3 separate regions of the Homo sapiens genome follow, and all the other regions are linked to region 2. Evidence: fine-mapped expression QTL. A gene starts in region 2. Each other region holds a variant in brackets. All regions are shown on one strand. Distances are between the middles of the regions. Region 1 overlaps TMPRSS7 (transmembrane serine protease 7). Region 2 holds the start of TBILA (TGF-beta induced lncRNA). Region 3 holds the start of C3orf52 (chromosome 3 open reading frame 52).

Region 1 (6,100 bases), 58 kb before region 2:
GTTTTGCTTCTAACAGTCAGGTCCCTCAGCTGCAGGTCTGTTGGAGTTTGCTAGAGGTCTACTCCAGATGCTGTTTTCCTGGGTATCACCAGTGGAGGCTGCAGAACAGCAAATATTGCAGAGCAGCAAATATTGCTGCCTGATCCTTCCTCTGGAAGCTTCGTCCCAGAGGGGCACCCGCCTATATGAGGTGTCTCTTGGCCCCTACTGGGAGGTGTCTCCCAGTTAGGCTACACAGGGGTCAGGGACCCACTTGAGGAGGCAGTCTGTCTGTTCTTAGAGCTCAAATGCCATGCCAGGAGAAGCACTGCTCTCTTTAGAGCTGTCAGAGTGGAACGTTTAAGTCTTCAGAAGTTGTCTGCTGCCTTTGGTTCAGCTATGCCCTGCCCACAGAGGTGGAGTCTATAGGGGCAGTAGGCCTTGCTGAGCTGCAGTGGGCTCCACCCAGTTTGAGCTTCCTGGCTGCTTTGTTTACCTACTCAAGCCTCAGCAATGGCGGACGCCCCTCCCTCAGCCAGGCTGCCGCCTGGCAGTTGGATCTCAGACTGCTGCGCTAGCAGTGAACAAGGCTCTGTGGACGTGGGACCTGCCAAGCCAGGCATATGTGCCACATTTGCTTAATCCAGTCTATCATTTATGGACATTTGGGTTGGTTCCAAATCTTTGCTATTGTGAATAGTGCTGCAATAGACATACGTGTGCATGTGTCTTTATAGTAGCAAGATTTATAATCCTTTGGGTATATACCCAGTAATGGGATTGCTGGGTCAAATGGTATTTCTAGTTCTAGATCCCTGAGGAATCACCATACCATCTTGCACAATGGTTGAACTAATTTACACTCCCGCCAACAGTGTAAAAGTGTCCCTATTTCTCCATGTCCTCTCCAGCATCTGTTGTTTCCTGACTTTTTTTTTTTTTTTTTTTTGAGACAGAATCTTGCTCTGTTGCCCAGGCTGGAGTGCAGTGGCACAGTCTGGGCTCACTGCAACTTCCACCTCCCGGGTTCAAGCAATTCCCCTGCCTCAGCCTCCCGAGTAGCTGGGATTACTGGTGCACACCACCATGCCCAGCTATTTTTTTTGTATTTTTAGTAGAGATGGGGTTTCACCATGTTGGCCACACTGATCTCGAACTCCTGACCTCAGGCAATCCACCCGCCTCAGCCTCCCAAAGTGCTGGGATTACAGGCAGGAGCCACCTGTAATTACGCGCCTGGCCTTTTCTAGACTTTTTAATGATCACCATTCTAACTGCGGTGAGACGGTATCTCATTGTGGTTTTGATTTGCATTTCTCTGATGACCAGTGATGATGAGCATTTTTTCATGTGTCTGTTGGCTGCATAAATGTCTTCTTTTGAGAAGTGTCTGTTCATATCCTTTGCCCACTTTTTGATGGGGTTGTCTGTTTTTTTCTTGTAAATTTGTTTGAGTTCTTTGTAGATTCTGGAGATTAGCCCTTTGTCAGATGTGTAGATTGCAAAAATTTTCTCCCATTCTGTAGGTTGCCTGTTCACTCTGATGGTAGTTTCTTTTGTAATACTGGCAGTTTCTTATTGCTTACTTGCTTTTAATGATGCTCAGGATTGTAGGATACAGAGGACCTGATGTAGAGGAACTTGCCAAATACTGGAATGGAACACGTTCCACTCTCACCCTTGAAGAAACAAACCTCCAAGGTTGTGAACAAATGTGTTGTAATTCACAAGTCTGTCCATTTTGCCTCCTACTGATATAAAATAACTGAGCATGGCTGTGATTTTTGCTCAAAAGTTTTCTTGGAGAATAAGAGAAGGTAATAGCAAAGAGGCTGCAGCCTAAAGCCACTGATATGTCGCACTTCTTCATGTCTCACCTGCTATGGGAGAAAGAAGAGGTGGTTGGATTGATTCTCAACAAATATGCCTGCCAGCGTTCAAATGGCTTTTCTTAGGTGAAGAAATGGATCACTGTGAGGTTGCTTCTCTTCTCTCTGCCATTTATCCCAGAGCAGCAAATACCAATCCTGTGATTAAACCATTTTTTATGGGGTTTGGAGTTATTCATTCAAATCTCATTCACTCAAGTTTGTTTCTGGCTAAGGAAAGCTGTTTCTTCTTTTGTCCATTGTTAGGTATTCCATGCAACAACAGAACTTTTAAGTGTGGCAATGATATTTGCTTTAGGAAACAAAATGCAAAATGTGATGGGACAGTGGATTGTCCAGATGGAAGTGATGAAGAAGGCTGCAGTAAGTAGAAATTCATTCCTTTGGGTTCCTGTATTCCCTCTTCAGTTTACCTGTTTGTTATATTTTCATTCCCTTCTTGGTGTATTTCCCTTGATCGAGGTTGCCATAGCCAAAACAAGAATAGTAACTATTGACAAACTGAGTCTGAAATTGTTTCTCAGAAATAAAAACTCTGGAATGGATTCTGTCTTCTTGATAACAGCATTAATGAATTAAATTTTTAAAATGAGAACTTTCACTTTTTAATAATTTTAATCAAGGGAGAAGATCTTAAATAAAAACCTTGTGAGAAAATAAATAGAAACTGGAACGCAGTGGATGACCTGTTAATGCCTTATGTTACTAACAATATCAAGTGCTGTTTCTTTAGGCCTGACTCAATAACTAATCTCCCACATGCTCCTATTAGTCATGTGGCTACTACTTGGCCATGTGGCAACATGTAAATTATACATCTTTACCAATACTATTTACACTAGCAAACAATTGCTCTGATAACTAGTTTTCCCTGTAGGTTTTCATTTGTCCAGGTCTTATAAATCTTTTCCCCAATCCTTTCTGTCACATCAGCACAACTTCAAAGAAATTCTCAATTCATTTACATTCCTCTTTACCTGACAATCTAAATCCATAGGCAGCTGTTTGTGTCAGTTCAGCTGTTACAGCAGGTCCCCCTCCTCCTCTCATCTGCGTTGTG[G/A]TATAGAGACTGTGTCAGGGCATGCTTCAGGAAGGAGGGAGTGGTTTGTTTGTATTGGTTTCAGACAGACTCACATGTTCTCTGTCCTCTAGATAAGGAGATTTCAAATTGCTACCTAGTGAGTCAGTTCCCAGCCAGCACTAAAACTGGCTTAACTTCTAGTTTTTCTTCCAAGTCTACCTTTAAATCACATGCCCTTTCTCCACCAAAGCCTGCAGCAGGAGTTCCTCCGCCCTTCACCGCATCATCGGAGGCACAGACACCCTGGAGGGGGGTTGGCCGTGGCAGGTCAGCCTCCACTTTGTTGGATCTGCCTACTGTGGTGCCTCAGTCATCTCCAGGGAGTGGCTTCTTTCTGCAGCCCACTGTTTTCATGGAAACAGGTAGGGCCTCACGGTCCTTACTTTCAAGTGGCACTCTGTGGCCATAGACAATATATCTGCCCTCAAATTGTGGGAAGCAGATCCCTGTTGGGGACATTCAATCAATTCAATTGCACTTTCATTTTTTGGATCCCACGTGTGTGACAAACATTTTTTTTTAAGGTATTATTGGTATAAAAAAAGCACAAAGGAAACATCAAGAATGAATAGGCTTTTACTAAGGCTGGGAAAATAAGATAGGGCTTTTAACTCAGAGGGAGCAAACTTAAGAGAATGTGTGGAGAATGTGGAGAAAAATGGGCACTGGAGAGTGACTGGAGAATGGAGGTCCCCAATGGGATTATGATGGGATAGATGCTCTTCCAGCCAAGGGTAAGAGGACATCTTAGAAAATAACCTCACTTAAAATTTAAACTTACTATTGGAATCTACTGAATCTTAGGTTAAAAAAATCATTCACTTCTCATTCTGCATTTTTTTTTTAGTATTTCAATGAAGTTACACAGTTTGGATATTTGTTTCCCTGAAAATTATAGGATTTGTGTTAATTATTAAGATAGCTTCACATCTGTTTGATCATGAGTCTCTAATGCTGTGAAACTGCTCCAAATAATGTATTAACCCTAATATTTCTTTGGGTGTCCATTGACACTCATGAGACATCAGCTAAGCAAATTAGTGACCAAAATTTTGGGGCTTCCTCATTTTTTTCACTCCCACTCTTTACCCCACTGCTATGCTGATGGAGATGGACGCTTCACATGGAGATTACAAGTTCTTCTGTGACTTGTGCAAGGTCATGGAGGTCAAGATTGGGATTCTGGAAGGACTGATGGGAATGGCAGTTGGTGACCCTATGAATGGGCATTGTTGAGCAGTAAGAGTAGTGATCATTAAGGCTTCCAGTAGTTTGCCAGAAGGAATTTCATTAAATTCCTGCTTATAGCACTTTGATTTCTAATCTATCTTGGTATTCATATCATTTGAATTTGGTAGTAGGATTCTCCATCAAATGCCATTGTCAGCATGAATAGGAAGAATGTAACAAATTAATTCTAGTTACCAACATTCTTGACCTGTGTGTGGTTCATGAAATACTAGTGGAAAGAAAATGTCCAGGCATTTGCTTAGGACACTGTTGAGTGAATTTTCTATTACTTGCCACTCCTAATACAGCTTACGTCATTTCTGACTTTTTGAGGGAGACAAGGGAGGCTCACAGTTACGCTTTCTGCCATGGTCCCCGGACAAAGCCAGTGACTATAATAACACCCTGGAAGTCAGGCCCTTCTTTTTCAGCCCTCAACTCTTTAGAGTGCTTGTTTGCAAACTGTATGTGGTTCTTTAAGCTGCTAACTTTATGTTTCATTACTGTTCTATCAGGCTGTCAGATCCCACACCATGGACTGCACACCTCGGGATGTATGTTCAGGGGAATGCCAAGTTTGTCTCCCCGGTGAGAAGAATTGTGGTCCACGAGTACTATAACAGTCAGACTTTTGATTATGATATTGCTTTGCTACAGCTCAGTATTGCCTGGCCTGAGACCCTGAAACAGCTCATTCAGCCAATATGCATTCCTCCCACTGGTCAGAGAGTTCGCAGTGGGGAGAAGTGCTGGGTAACTGGCTGGGGGCGAAGACACGAAGCAGGTGTGTGTATGAATGAATGGTCATGCCCTTCCCCTGCAGAGGATGATAAGGTGTTTATGTAGTGCTTTAGGGTTCACAGAGAGGGTTTGTGTATATGATCTCCTTTGAACCTCCTGACAACTCTGGAAGGTTGGATTGGAGGAGGGTACTGTTATTTCTTTTTAATGATGCTATCCACCTGCTTTAAAAGAAGCAGGGCTCACCTTATAAAGAGGGAGAGGACTGTGTATGAGCAAGGCAGGATTGACTAGATAGTCATGGGCCCTTTTCAAACTCTGAAGGTTATGCTATGTTATTCACTAGAGAAGGAGCAATTCCTCCCTTTTCATTCAAAGAAATGATTCATTTATAAAGGAGAGAAGGACACACATGCACATCCCACTATGTCAACTCATAGGCAACAGTCTGGGAGACTATGTGGGTATGACCTGTGCCTGTGCAATTGGCCAAGGGATGAGAGTAAGGGCTGAACTTCAGACTGCCCTTAGTTTCCAGACCAGAAACTCAGGCCTGGAGGTTATACCTCCAGGATTTGGATTTGGTCCACCCAGAGGAGATACCTTTTTGCTATTTCTCTGACGGGAGAGGACATCTTTTCAATATGCATAAAGATCAGGCTGTATAGTAGGGAAGTCCCTACATCTACCCTGCCAAGGTTTTTCATGGTCCAGGATTCAAGGTGGGATTCTGAATATATAGTGAGGGGAAGAATCCAATGCTTTGTGAATGTATCCCCAAACGCTAGTGCTAATATTTTCCCTTGATCTTTCAATCACCTCACCTTCTTTTGCCATCCTTTTCAAGGGTTTAGGACACGTACAGCATCTGTAATTCCTGAACCTTGCCCTGTAGCCTCGTTTTGACACTCTAAAGTGTGGGCAACTTCTCAAAGGCAGCTTCTCAGTGCTTTCATTTAGTGATTGAAGTAGTAATACCACCAGCTTGGGTCCACTGAAGTCTCAGGGTCCCAAGGAGGGAAGGCAGCTGACTGTGAACACTTGTAACTTTGATAGGTTACTGTGCTCAGTGCTTTGATTACATTATCATATATCACAGGAGAAAAGCATCTGCCCAACCAACTTATCATGAGATGTTTTCTTTATAAGCCTGGGTATGTGTGTGTACACTTATTTTTCT
Region 2 (6,100 bases):
AAACTTTCTAAAAATTGTCGTAACATGGGGCATGTGGTCACTTCAGAAATAGACACCTATAGCTTAAAATAAAATGGCTAGGGTGGAGGTTGAGCACAAAGGTACCTGAGATAGACAAACAAAATGACAACAGGAAATAAGACCTTTTATTTTATAACAGGGCATAACAGGGACTAGCAGGGTCTTAGTTCCTGTTGCTAGGAGTTACATTAGGCTTCTAGCAAAGTAGCATATCTCCTGTCCAAAGTTTTCAAGCATTTTATCTTTTGTCCTGTCTTCACATTTGTTACTATTGCAACTGCTACTGGTCTAAACAGGGCCCTCTCTCACTGGGATGTGAAGTCCAGGGCTTGACATACTTCGTTCTCCTTGGGCAAGGTCTGGGGGGTGTTTGGTTGATTTTGCTCTCACCTGGATGTTCTCTGTTTGGGGCTTTGCATTCTCACATTCCAAGGCATCTCTTGAGTGTTCTGCTGCCGCCTGAAACTCAACATATCAGAAACAGGCTAAGTATTTCCTAAACAGGCCTGTCACTTCTTTTCATAATTTTTCCGACTTTCCTCATTTCTGCTATTTGTGTGTAACTCAGAAATTGACTGGTTGCCCTCACACATGTTAATACTGTTTCCTCAAGCACATGTCGCAAGCTACCTTTGATCTGACATGCTCTCCATTGCCACAGCAACAGCCCACTGATGTTCTCCAACCTCCATGAACAAGTGATCCTAAATCATCTGATCCCAAATATCCAGGGATCCTCGTCATGACCCTTGAGAGTATCCGTGTCCAGAGAGAGGCCTGAGGTCCTCAGCTACCATCTCTTTGGTGCAGTTCCAGGAGCTATGCACAAGTAATGGGGAAAGGTACTGGCTTTGTCTTGTGTAAATCACACCATCTTTCACAGAAAGCATGGAGGCCCAGAACAAGGGACAGAAGGAGAAGAAAAGGATTGAATAAAGAAAATAAATTGGTTCATTGTTTGGGTTAGATTTCTGTATACCCATCTTCCCACTTGTTGGGAATTGGGAGTATGAGGATAAAGAAACTAACACTTAAACACTACTTACTATATGCCAATCATTTTGTGTGTTATATTTCATTTAATCCCAGAATAAATCCATAAGATAGATATTATCATTATATTTTTTATACTAATGAGGAAACTGAGGCCCAAAATGCTAGGCAACTGGTCTGAGGATCCACAGCCACTAAGGGGGAAAAGCTGGGTTTGCTGCTGGCAGGTCTCTTCCTCTGAGACTGAGCTCCTCTCATGAAGGGATGAGTGCCATTCTATTCTGTGCAAAATTTCCCTGACTTCTTAGCTTATTTGATCTGGAGAGACACGGTTGGGGGGGTATGCTGACTAGATGATAACTGGGTGTTGGGGTGACAATGAAAATTAGATACCAATATATACAAGACTTTTGAATACGTTAACGGAAACATTTTATTTAATTATTTTAATGAATTTATTTTTAAGACTGGGTCTTGCTATGTTGTTCAGGCTGCCCTCAAACTCCTGGGCTCAAGCAATCCTCCTGCCTCAGCCTCCTGAGTAGCTGGGACTACAGGTGCATGCCACTGCACTTGGTTCAAGGGAGACCTTTTAAATCATCATAGAAATAAAGATGTTGGGCAAACTGATCAACTATTTGGAAAAAAATTTACATCTGACACCATATATTGAATATATGTTGCCAAATGTAAAATAACAAAATCAAAACTTATGTGAGTTGATTTGTCTTATCTTAGGAAGAGCAAAGAATTTTAAGCATGAATGCAATGGCAGAAACCAAAAAGCTTTCTAGATTTAAAATCGAATTTTCTTTAAAATAAATAAAAAACCATAAGAAGTCCAAATAGCATAAGATGTGTGCACCTTGGAAAAAGGTTTTTTTTCTTACATAAAACAAAATTTTAAAGTAAAAAAATTTTTTTAAAGTTTTTTTGCACTTATTCAGTGCACGTGATATGCCAGAAACAATGCCAGGAACCAGGAATTCAAAGATAAATAAGAAACAATCACTACATTTGAGCATCTCATATCTAGTAATAAAAATAGTAATTTATATAATTGTTAGAACAATGCTAGAGTAGAAGATTGACAAGGGGCTGTGACAACCCAGGGTAGAGAAGTCTCAGACAACATGATTCTTAGGAAGGGACATGAGATATTCCACAGGACCACCAATCCTCTTTTCGGCAAGTGGTCAAAAGTGGGCTACCATTTTTTCCTGTGTTCCACTCTCCAGTAGCATGAACTGAGACCAGGGATTCCAAACATAACCCTGTGAAGACCCCCTCTGGCTCGCTTACTCTCTCTAGATCACCCCACTTTATACCCTAGAGATTACCTTGTCTGTGGTGGCACTATTTTGGTGGCACGGCTTTGATATTAAGGAAGATGATGGTCAGAAAAAGAAAGCAGAAAATATCTTCTAATTTTGAACCCTACTTTATGTCAGGCACTATGCTAGCACAATACACACTAGAACTCTCTAAGGTAGATATTGTATTATTATTTCTACTTAAAATAAAGAGGCTGAGGTCCAGAAAGTAAATCTGAGTTCTGTGCCTATTTAATCTAGATGACCTCTGCTTACCTGCTTGCAGGGAGTGCACATCAAAGGAAGACTCAAGGTGGCAGGAAGCTTGCTGTTTATTTCAAACTTAAAATAGTGGCTGAAAGAGGGTGGTGATTTTGACCTCCTTGTGGAGCATGAGGAGCTCAGGAGAGCATCTCCTTCCCGGGCTTTCAGAAAGTTGTTTCATTTCTTAGGTGGTAACCTATTATATAGACCTTCCTTGGTAAAGTCTTTCCACCTTTCAGCTATTCTCCATCAGCTGCTCACCATGATTCTTGGGAGAAGGCAAAACCTATGGGAAATTTAATGTGGTATCTGGCACAGAGTAGGCACTGAAGGCTTGGCAGTTTCCTTACCCAACTACTTTCTACCCCAACTTAGTGTGCTAACTGTATACTAGCTTTCTTTTTCTCTTCCTTGCTGTATTGTCCTGTCCCATCTCCTCTGCTCTCCCACAGGGAGTCTAGACTTACCTGTTTTCTCTCAGCAGAGAATTTCCCATCCTCTCAGTCCTCTCAGGGCTTCCCCTCCGTCCCTTTACCACTTCCTTCTTGCCTTGTGCTCTGACAGGGCAACTCCTGACTTAAAGAAAGGGCTGTGTGGCTCTGGCCACCCGTGCAGAGACAGCAGAAAGGAGAAGGGTGTCTCTGCAGAGGGAAGGAAGAGGCTGGGGGAGGAGTGTTAGAGGCACGCATGTGCAGAATGTCCTAACATGTCAGTGCCTGAACCAACCTGGCTGTTGGCCATAACCAGCAACTACCCGTCAATGAGAGCTTCGAACCTCTGGGGAATCCCAGGTCTGAAATTACAGATGGGCCATGGGAGTTTTTCCACTACAGATATTTACGTTTATAAATCACGTTGTCTTCTTAGAAAAGTCAGAAGGAGGTTAAAACAGTCAAGCCACAGACCTGTAGAAAATATAGTATCAACAACTCTCAAATCTGAAAACAAACACCCAGTAACAAAATGGGCAAAATATTTGAACAGACATTTCACCAAAGGAACTATACAGATGAACATTAAAAGATGCTAAACATTGTAGTTATTAGGGAAGTGTAAATCAAATCCACAATGGAACACTTTTACATACTTATTACAATGGCTATAAAACCCTGACAATATCAAGTATGGCAAGGTATGCAAAGCAACTGGAAGTCTCATGCATTGCTGATGAGAATGCAAAATGACAGCCTTTTTGGAAAGAAGTGATAAGGACAGAAGGCAGGGCTTTACTGGGTAGAAGAGGGTGGTTCACTGGCAAAGGTCCCACCCTCAAGCCTTGAAACCGAAGCCCTAAATGAGAACAGTTATCCCTGTTATCCTGCCCAAATGTTACTCTTTAGCCTGTCCAGCCCCCCTATCCCGTGCCCATATAAACCCCAGACCTCAGCTGGCAGACAGACAAGCGGCTGAACATCAAGAGGAGAAGAAGCAACTGAGTGTCAGAGATGTGGCTTAACTTCAGGTGGCATGACTTCAGGGAGGAGCCCGGCCAGAGACAGCAGACTTCAGGGAAAGGTCACTTTCTTCCTGCACCATCCCCTTTGCAGCTCCCCTTCCACTGAGAGCCACTTCCACCATTTAATAAAATCGTCCACATCCATCAACTTTCAAACCATTCATGCAACCTGATTCTTCCTGGATGCTGAACAAGAACCTGGGTACCAACAGGGCAGGGTGTAAAAGGCTGCCACCCTGACTCTCCATTGAGTGGGTTAACACTTAGCTGTCCACGGATGGCAACTGCTAAAAGAGCATGAATTGTAACACATCCCTAAATGCTGCTGTTGGGCTGGAGCCCAAAAGTGCTCATCGAAGCCCTGGCACCCGCTTGCCTGCGTGCTCCCGCTCCCACAGAGAGTTTGAGCATGGTGGTGGCCAAGTAAGTAGGCCACACCCCTGTCGCAAGTCCCGAGAAGGGGTCAAGGGAACTCTCCCATCTCAGAAGTATGGCAATTTCTTATAAAATTGAACATAGGGTTACTGTACAACCTGGCAATTTCACTCCTAGGCATTTAGCCAAGTGAAACTTATGTCCTCTAAGACTGTGTGTACAAATTTTTATATGTGCTTTACTCATAATAGCCGAAATACCCTGGAAATAGCCCAACTGATCTTCATTGAGTGAATTGCTAAATAAGCTCTGTGTTATATTACATCCACACAACAGAATCCTGACCATCATTGAAAAGGAGTGGACTATTAATACATGCAATAACTTGGATCAATCTCAAATGCATTACACTAAGTGAAAGAGACCAGACTTAAAGCCTACCTTCTGTGACATTAGAGATAAGGTGAAACCACAGGAACAGAAAACATATTAGTGTTGCCAGGAGCAAAAGGTGGGGGAGGTGTTGACTTTCAAAGCACAGGAGGAAATTTTTTGTTGTTGTTCTTTATCTTGATTGTGTTAGTGCCCACATGACTGTATGCATTTCTCATAATTCACAGAACTGTATACTAATAAGGGTGCACTTCACTGCACATAAATGAATCTCAACAGACAAAAGGTTAAAAAAGAAAGAAATCTCGGGACAGGAATCATGGATTTTTGTATTATCCTTGTATTTGATGGTTGTTTCCAGTTTGGTCACTCATCTGTTTGTTCATTCCTTTAACAAGTATGTGTCGAGTGCCTACTATGTGCTGGGCACTGTAGGTTCAATGGTAAGAAAAGCAGATACAGGACTGCTCTTGTGAAGTTCCTTGAAAGAAATAAAACAAAGTGCAAAATATTTTATTGCTTGTCCTTGAGTAATGTAAAGGTCATATCTAAAACAGGCAGGAGAAGGATGGGGAGTGGGCTTAGAAGAAACAATTTCAGAGAAACTAGGGTACTAGCTGTGCAACCCCAGATTCATCTCACATCATTCTTATCCTTATGGCTGCTCTCCAAACTTCCTTTTGGCTCTGTGAGGGATTTCCAGGAGCACCTTATTAAAAATGGAAGATTTTATTATAAAAGATAAGCCATTATTGATCATTCACTTTTCTAAAAAAACACAAATGTGAGAATAAAATAAAAACACACAAGACTCACTAGCCCCTGCAAGACAGAAAGCAGCCCTGGACAGAGAGCCTCCTTATTATATACCTAATGCCTGAACTCACACATTCTAGGGTTTCATGTTTTGTTACCTCTTGCAAAGGATAGGAAACTGGCTAGAAAATTCATGTAAAGGAAGGTCACAACTTTAAAGCTATCTGACGCTAATGACTTGTATAATCTAGTTTGCAGCTCTGAGAGACAATATCAAATAAGCATTGTCAAATACTACTCCCACCTAACCTTTGCTGTCATTGTTCTTTGAAATTATCTTTGGGATTGGTTATGTTCTCTCACTGTAGCTTTCGTTTATCTCAGAGCACACACCCTAATGTCCATGTGCAGTCTCCATGCTCAAGTATTCCAGAATACAATTTTCTGGAGTCTAACTTCAGTTGACACCTGACTCCAAATTGCAAATCTACCTCCAACCAAAAAGAAATGAGAAATTAGTTTTTAAGGG
Region 3 (6,100 bases), 47 kb before region 2:
TTGTTAGCAGAGCAAAATGGCCTTCATAAATTAAGACAGAAGCATTTCACGTGCCATATTATCAGGGAGAACTTGTAGGGACTCATGCCTTCTTTCACAGTGCCTTGAAAATAGCACAGTGAAGCACCACAAGCAACCATTTCTCAATTGTTTTCTACTTGATTAGCTTGAGTGGCTGACCCAGTTGCTGACGTTCGGAGTAGTATTGCTTGCCATCTGACAACACACAGGAACAAACTGTTGCGTATTCCAGAGTCACAGACCTATTTGAAGGGAATGAGATGCCTTTGGTGTATTGGTGATATCACTCTGATGATGTTACTTTGTTTTTCAGTTTATATGATAACCATTTAGAAAATTATTTGCTTCTAAAAAGGATTTAAAAAGAAGAGCAAGTACTATTAAAAAAAAGCAACATCAAAAATCTTATATTGGTCAGCAAATATAAGTATGTTTTAATTTTTTAATGTTACTTAAATTAGACACTTCAAACAAACTAAAGCAATTGAGTCAATAATAATTTTAAATTATATTAAAGAAATCTATTTTTGAAATAATAGTATATTTAAAAAGCCACCCTTATGTAAATGAATTCTGAAGGAATTACAAAAACAAATCTAGGTAGAGTTTGGTTCCTCATTCACAAATTCTTGACTTTCATCAGACTCGTTTAATCTAAACTTGGTTGTACCTCTAGGGAGAAACACCTCTTCCTAACTTATTCTGAATCCTTAGTGTGGAGTGAAACTGGCAGGATGAAGAAAGTCTTCAGGTAGGGTTGGGACTCTCATCTGCATTCTAGGTCAGCTGTCTGGAGATTAAGAAATTTGCAGTTAACAGGAACAGGAACAGGTTGCAAATAAGAATTTAGTTCAGGTAATATGGGAGGTGTCAGCAAGTGTCAGTGATCAGGAAAATAGGACAGCACAGGAAGAAAAACCAATATCAAAAGAAAACATATTGAATCAAGGGTTAGTGCTGGGTGCTAAGGGTCGGGGGAGAGTGGGTATTAGCCACAAAGACACAGTCAGGGAATGTAATGGAGCATTTACTGAGATCCTTTCATTTTTCAGGCACAGGAATAAATTCTTTACCTTAATCTTCCTGACTCTGCTAGGTAGGAATCATTTTATAAGAAAACAAGCAGACATTGAACAGCTTGCCCAAGAACACACAGATAGTGAGAGTCTAAATTTGATCCTAGTTCTGTCTGCCTTCAGAACTTATATTCCTTCCACTGTAACATGAGAACAAGGGTTAGGCATATGGAATTATAGAAATGCATTTAAATCTAATTACAGAGTATATAAACCTTGCTTAACAGTACTCAAAAGGCATTAGAAGATGTGGTTTAGGGTGTGCTTGAGACAGGAACAGTTGCTTTTTGATTCTCTGGGGGAGTGAGGGAGGCTTTAGGTATCTGTGCATGGAGAAATCAGGCATGGAGATAGCTACTATCCATCTGAAGTGAGAAAAAAATCTCACATTTAGGATGAACTTCTGCAATCAAATAAGGGAACTATGAGAAAAGTTTTCTGGACCCTGGGTAAGGATGGGGGTGGGGAGAATCAGAAGTTTGAGAGGTGTCAGTGCTTCCAGTCAGGTCTGCATGTTTTCGTGACTACAGATCCTATCAAGACCTCCCTGCAAATTCCCACACCCTTCAATGGCTCTAGTTCTTTATCAGTCTCCAGTCCCTTTTAGGCCTAGGAGTGTTAACAGCTTCTCGCTATTGCTAGTCCCTGGGTACGTCACCATGCCTTGTTGATTCCCTTAACCCTTGCTCCTTGGTTAAAAAACCTGTTCAAAAATCCCAGCTGAGAATGCAGCCTGATTCTTGCAAGATCCACCTGTTGGAGCAGAAGTCAGTGCAGGTCAGCAGATGAGTCACTGCAGACTCCCCTTAGCAGGCAGATGGATCCAAAGTTCAGGGGATCTGGTAGCAGGCATCAGACTGCTGGAGACAGGATATCTAGGCTGTGTCTCAACATCAGGTACTGAAGATGCCAGACTTTTGGACTCAAGTCAACATATTTGGAGTGGAGCTGATTTATATGCTTCTTGTTAATGGTCTGGTCTTAATGTGTGTGTGTGTGTGTGTGTGTGTGTGTGTGTTGCGTGGAGGGTGAGAAGTAAGGAGCAAGACTATTCGGAACAGAAGCTTGAGAGTTGAGGCCCTTGGCCCAACCCATGCTGTGCTTAACAAACATAATTCCATGCTAACTAAACCGGAAGTTCTGAACTACAGATAGGGTGTCAAGGAGATTGTGTGTGCGCGTGCATTGTGTGTGTGTGTGTGTGTGTGTGTGTGTAAGGCCCCTCCTCTCAAAGATAAATAATAATGGTCATTTATGAGTGCTTGCTGTGTCAATCACTGTTCTGAGTGCTTTGCTTACAACAACCCTTGTAATCCTGGTAACAACTACATTTAGGAGGGTACAAATATTACACCAACTTTCCAGATGAGGACGTTGGCACAGAGAGATGAAGACCGAGGTCTCACAGTGAGGAACCCTCTGGGTGGAGAATAACCCAGGTACACTGGTTTTAGAGTCCGCTGTCCCCAGCACCACACAATACTGTCTCTGTGCCTGACTCTGGACTTGCGAGGAAGTGTGTTGGTGTATATTATTCACCTTCATGCACTCAGAACCTAGCACCATGCTGGCACGAGGCATGGTTATTTGTTGATTGAATGAATGCACTTTTGCTAGGCCGCGAGGACTGTGGCAAACCCCAACAACCAACAGTTCGTAGGGTTAGATCGCAAACTTTTCTCCGTTGGACGGTGCTGCCGGGCCCACCCTTTCCTTACCACAGCCCGGCACCCAGGCAGCCCCTAAACGGAGATGGTCTGCATCTGCAGGCGCGGGGAAAGGCATAGCAGGCAGCGCCCTGAACAAATCAGAAAAACAGCCTTCGGCTCTGGAGCCCACTCCGGCACGGCCTCAGGTGCTCTACCCCGCGGGATCCAGGGAGTGGCCGCCACTCACAGTTGCCCCTCCT[G/T]TCCGCTCCGGTCCGCTCCCGCCGCCCGAGGTCCGCGACGCCCCGCCCAGTGGGTGGAGTGTGAGGCGGGGAGGTCGCTCGACTCGCCGGCGCTGTGGCCTCCCGCGGAGCCGCTCAGACTTTCCCTGCCGGCACATGGACCTGGCCCAACCCTCACAGCCAGTAGACGAGCTGGAGCTCTCGGTGCTCGAGCGGCAGCCAGAAGAGAACACGCCTCTCAATGGTGCCGACAAGGTCTTCCCTTCTTTGGACGAGGAGGTCCCCCCGGCCGAGGTAAGGTCCCCTTGGCGCTGGCCCTAACTTGCCGGCGGCGGGACAGTAGTAGGACCCGGGCCTGGCACCCGCGAGTTTCGGGTTTCCAGTCAGGCGGGGCGTCGACGGCGCCGAGCGAGGGTGGGGCGCGCTCGAGTGCTCTGAATGGAGCCGAGTCACCGCGACACCTTTCGGCCCGAGCAGTCCCCTCCCCAGCCCCTGGGGTCCTCCAACCCCTCTGACCCCCGAGGCGCTTTAGGAATCCTAGTGGTGAGGTGTGGCCGCTGCTGTCTTCAGAGAGGTATTCCGGAGATGGAAGTAGTTTTTTAAAGTTATGTAACTTTTAATTCAGTTTTTCTTTTTTCCAGTAGGGAGAATGAGAATGACAAATTGAGTATCCTCCTTCTCTCAGAATCTCTTCTGTCCTCCTCTTACCTTCACTGCCTTGCCACTTCTCTCCCTCCCCTCCACCCACCTCGCCGCAGCCCCCAGCCTTCTTCCATGCCTACCATCCGCCAAGCACTTTCTGCCTTCTCCCAGCCTGGCCATTGGATTCTGCCGGAAGAGAGATAGGGGAGAGCACAGAGGAGAGAAAGCGGTCAGAAGGGGAGAAGGGGTAGGGCTGGCGTAGAGATGGGGCGGGCGGGTTAGGGGGTCGGCGCGGGGGAGGTGAACTTGCCCTGCTCAATTGAAAGAAAATAATTTCAAAGTTCTTGTCTCGAAGGTTGAGACTTCGCCCACCTTGCTTTTACCTCCTCTCAATCCCTAAGGAAGTCCCTGGCTATTTTTAGGCCAAGCTCTTTTCTGATTCATCCCTAGCAATGATGGGAACATTATTCACTCTCATCAAAGACTTGTAAAACATCAGAGCTTTGACTTCCCAGCCATCCACCTTCTGATTAACTCCTAAGATTGGCTTGAGGTTTTCTGGGTGCACAGAACTCCCCATATAGAGCCCCGACCTGATCTTTCTAGGCCCCACTCCTCCACCCCCAACTTTTTGGCTGCCCAGCTGTTGATTTTAGGGATAAGCAGGAAATTCAAAAGTTGAAAGCATTGCTTTTGTTCTACATTGATTCCTGGAACTATTGCAAAGTCTGCTTTTATAGGTACTCTGGAGAGTAATTTGGAAACTTATTTCTGAATAAAATATGAATGCCACAGAAGAATGAAGGTTGAACAAAGATAGTCTGGTCACCAGTGCAAGTGGCCACAACTGTGAACTGGCTGTATGAGTCCTCCAGGGCGGTGTCCAGGAATGGGAGTTGGAAATACTTGCCTCAGATTAGATGGACCCGCACACCCTAAAGACTCCCTAGCTTGGGGCTGAATCCAGAAATCTGGTGACAGTTTTGCCACTAAGAAGTGTGTCCCAGAGGCAAGCCTGTCCCGTAGTGGTAATGTGTGCCTACTCGGCCTTCTGTGAGGCCTGGGAATGCCTTGTTGAAAACAGGTGGTGGGTAGAACAAGCCAAATCCATGCAGGGTTATCAGTATTCTGTAATTGTTTAGCACCTACCCTGTAGCAATGGTTCTTTAATGTTCTCATGACGTCCTTGTTAGTAAGGTATATACAGATACCCTGGACTTCTTTGTAAGTTAGCTTTGTAGGTCACCCAATAGGAGAGCTGTCCTCAGTAACAGGATGGAGTGAAGGTGAAGGGCTACAGGAGTACTTGGAGTGTGTTCAAGGAATGCCTTGAACTAATCTCATCTAATGTGTTAATCATTCTCTTTTGTCCTATAAAATAAAGTGAAGTGTATTTCAGTTAGAAAAGTCAATAAATATAGGCTCATTAAAAAGATTCAGACACTTAAGAATTTTGTGTGTTGGTCTCTTTGAACTGTATATTAAGATTTCTAATTTTGAAATGTAGCTGAAGTCCATGTATTTTCATTAACCCTGTTTAGTAACTGTCTTGTGACAAATACTTTTGATGCATAAATGCATTTAATTATCACAACTAACTTAAGAGGAAGGCGTCAGTATTCTGGTTTGTCAGATTGAAGATGCTGAGTGAAGAAATTGAGGGAGGCTCAGAGGAGTTACCAAAATCCTCAAGTTCACTCAGTGGTGCCTCTGAAGCTTGAACGTATGTTTTTTAGATCTCAAACCTTTGCTGTTTCTGTTGATTTATTCTATCTATCTATCTATCTATCTATTATCTATCAGCATTTAATTTAAATATGTTATATATAATTTATACTCATTTGTTTATAGTTGCCTAAGTTATTAATTATTACTAATTTCTATAAGTTAGGTAATTTATAATTAGGCAATTTAAGTGAGCTAGGAGTTGAGTATCACATCTGGAATGATGGAGTTGCAGGTGGATGGGTGAGGAATCGGGAACAGTTCTGGAATGATTGGGAAGAAGACATCTCTCTTCTTCCTTGGAAGAGCTGTGGTGGGAGAGTGAACAAAAGCAGTAGAAGGAACTTCTTTGCCTTTCTTGATGTGTGCTTGGCACTTGAGACAAAGGAATAGAAGCCACTGAACTCCACTTTGCCTGCTGTCACTGTAAACATGGCAATATGGCTGGGTCAAAAGTGAAAAATAAATTATGGGTAATAGAGTGAGGCTGGTTTTCTTTTATGGCTTATTACAGGGGCTCAGTTTTCAAATAGAAATCCCAGAGGCATTTTAAGAGATGGCAACATCATTTGAATAATAACAAACCAGTAAATTGATAGTTTTGAGGCAGGTAAGATTTATTTCAGGCCGGGTACAGCGGCTCACGCCTGTAATCCCAGCACTTTGGGAGGCCAAGGCAGGTGGATCATCTGAGGTTGGGAGTTCGAGACCAGCCTGACCAACATGGAGAAACCCCGTCTCTACTAAA

What was found.
Region 1: its variant is fine-mapped to the expression of TBILA in whole blood (TOPMed, PIP above 0.99).
Region 3: its variant is fine-mapped to the expression of TBILA in whole blood (TOPMed, PIP above 0.99). The same link has a PIP of 0.9 or more in T cells and blood mononuclear cells.

Annotation. Positions count from the first base shown.
Region 1 is chr3:112,072,182-112,078,281 of GRCh38, forward strand. It overlaps TMPRSS7 (transmembrane serine protease 7), which reads left to right. Exons shown (of 18, transcript NM_001395507.1): 14 at 2,115-2,231; 15 at 3,140-3,311; 16 at 4,695-4,963. Among named protein-coding and RNA genes, the nearest start is that of C3orf52, 11 kb to the right of the region's middle. The variant G/A (reference allele first, on the strand shown) is at 2,929.
Region 2 is chr3:112,130,034-112,136,133 of GRCh38, forward strand. It overlaps TBILA (TGF-beta induced lncRNA), which reads left to right and starts at 3,390. Exons shown (of 1, transcript NR_157393.1): 1 at 3,390-5,326. GCSAM (germinal center associated signaling and motility) reads right to left here and starts at 3,215. Exons shown (of 6, transcript NM_152785.5): 1 at 3,059-3,215; 2 at 412-480. The coding sequence starts at 3,087. It also overlaps a transcript of C3orf52 not described here. RefSeq lists enhancers at 2,821-2,880, 3,361-3,540.
Region 3 is chr3:112,083,267-112,089,366 of GRCh38, forward strand. It overlaps C3orf52 (chromosome 3 open reading frame 52), which reads left to right and starts at 3,123. Exons shown (of 6, transcript NM_024616.3): 1 at 3,123-3,279. The coding sequence starts at 3,142. RefSeq lists an enhancer at 2,785-3,301 and silencers at 2,818-2,867, 2,918-2,967, 2,988-3,037. The variant G/T (reference allele first, on the strand shown) is at 3,007.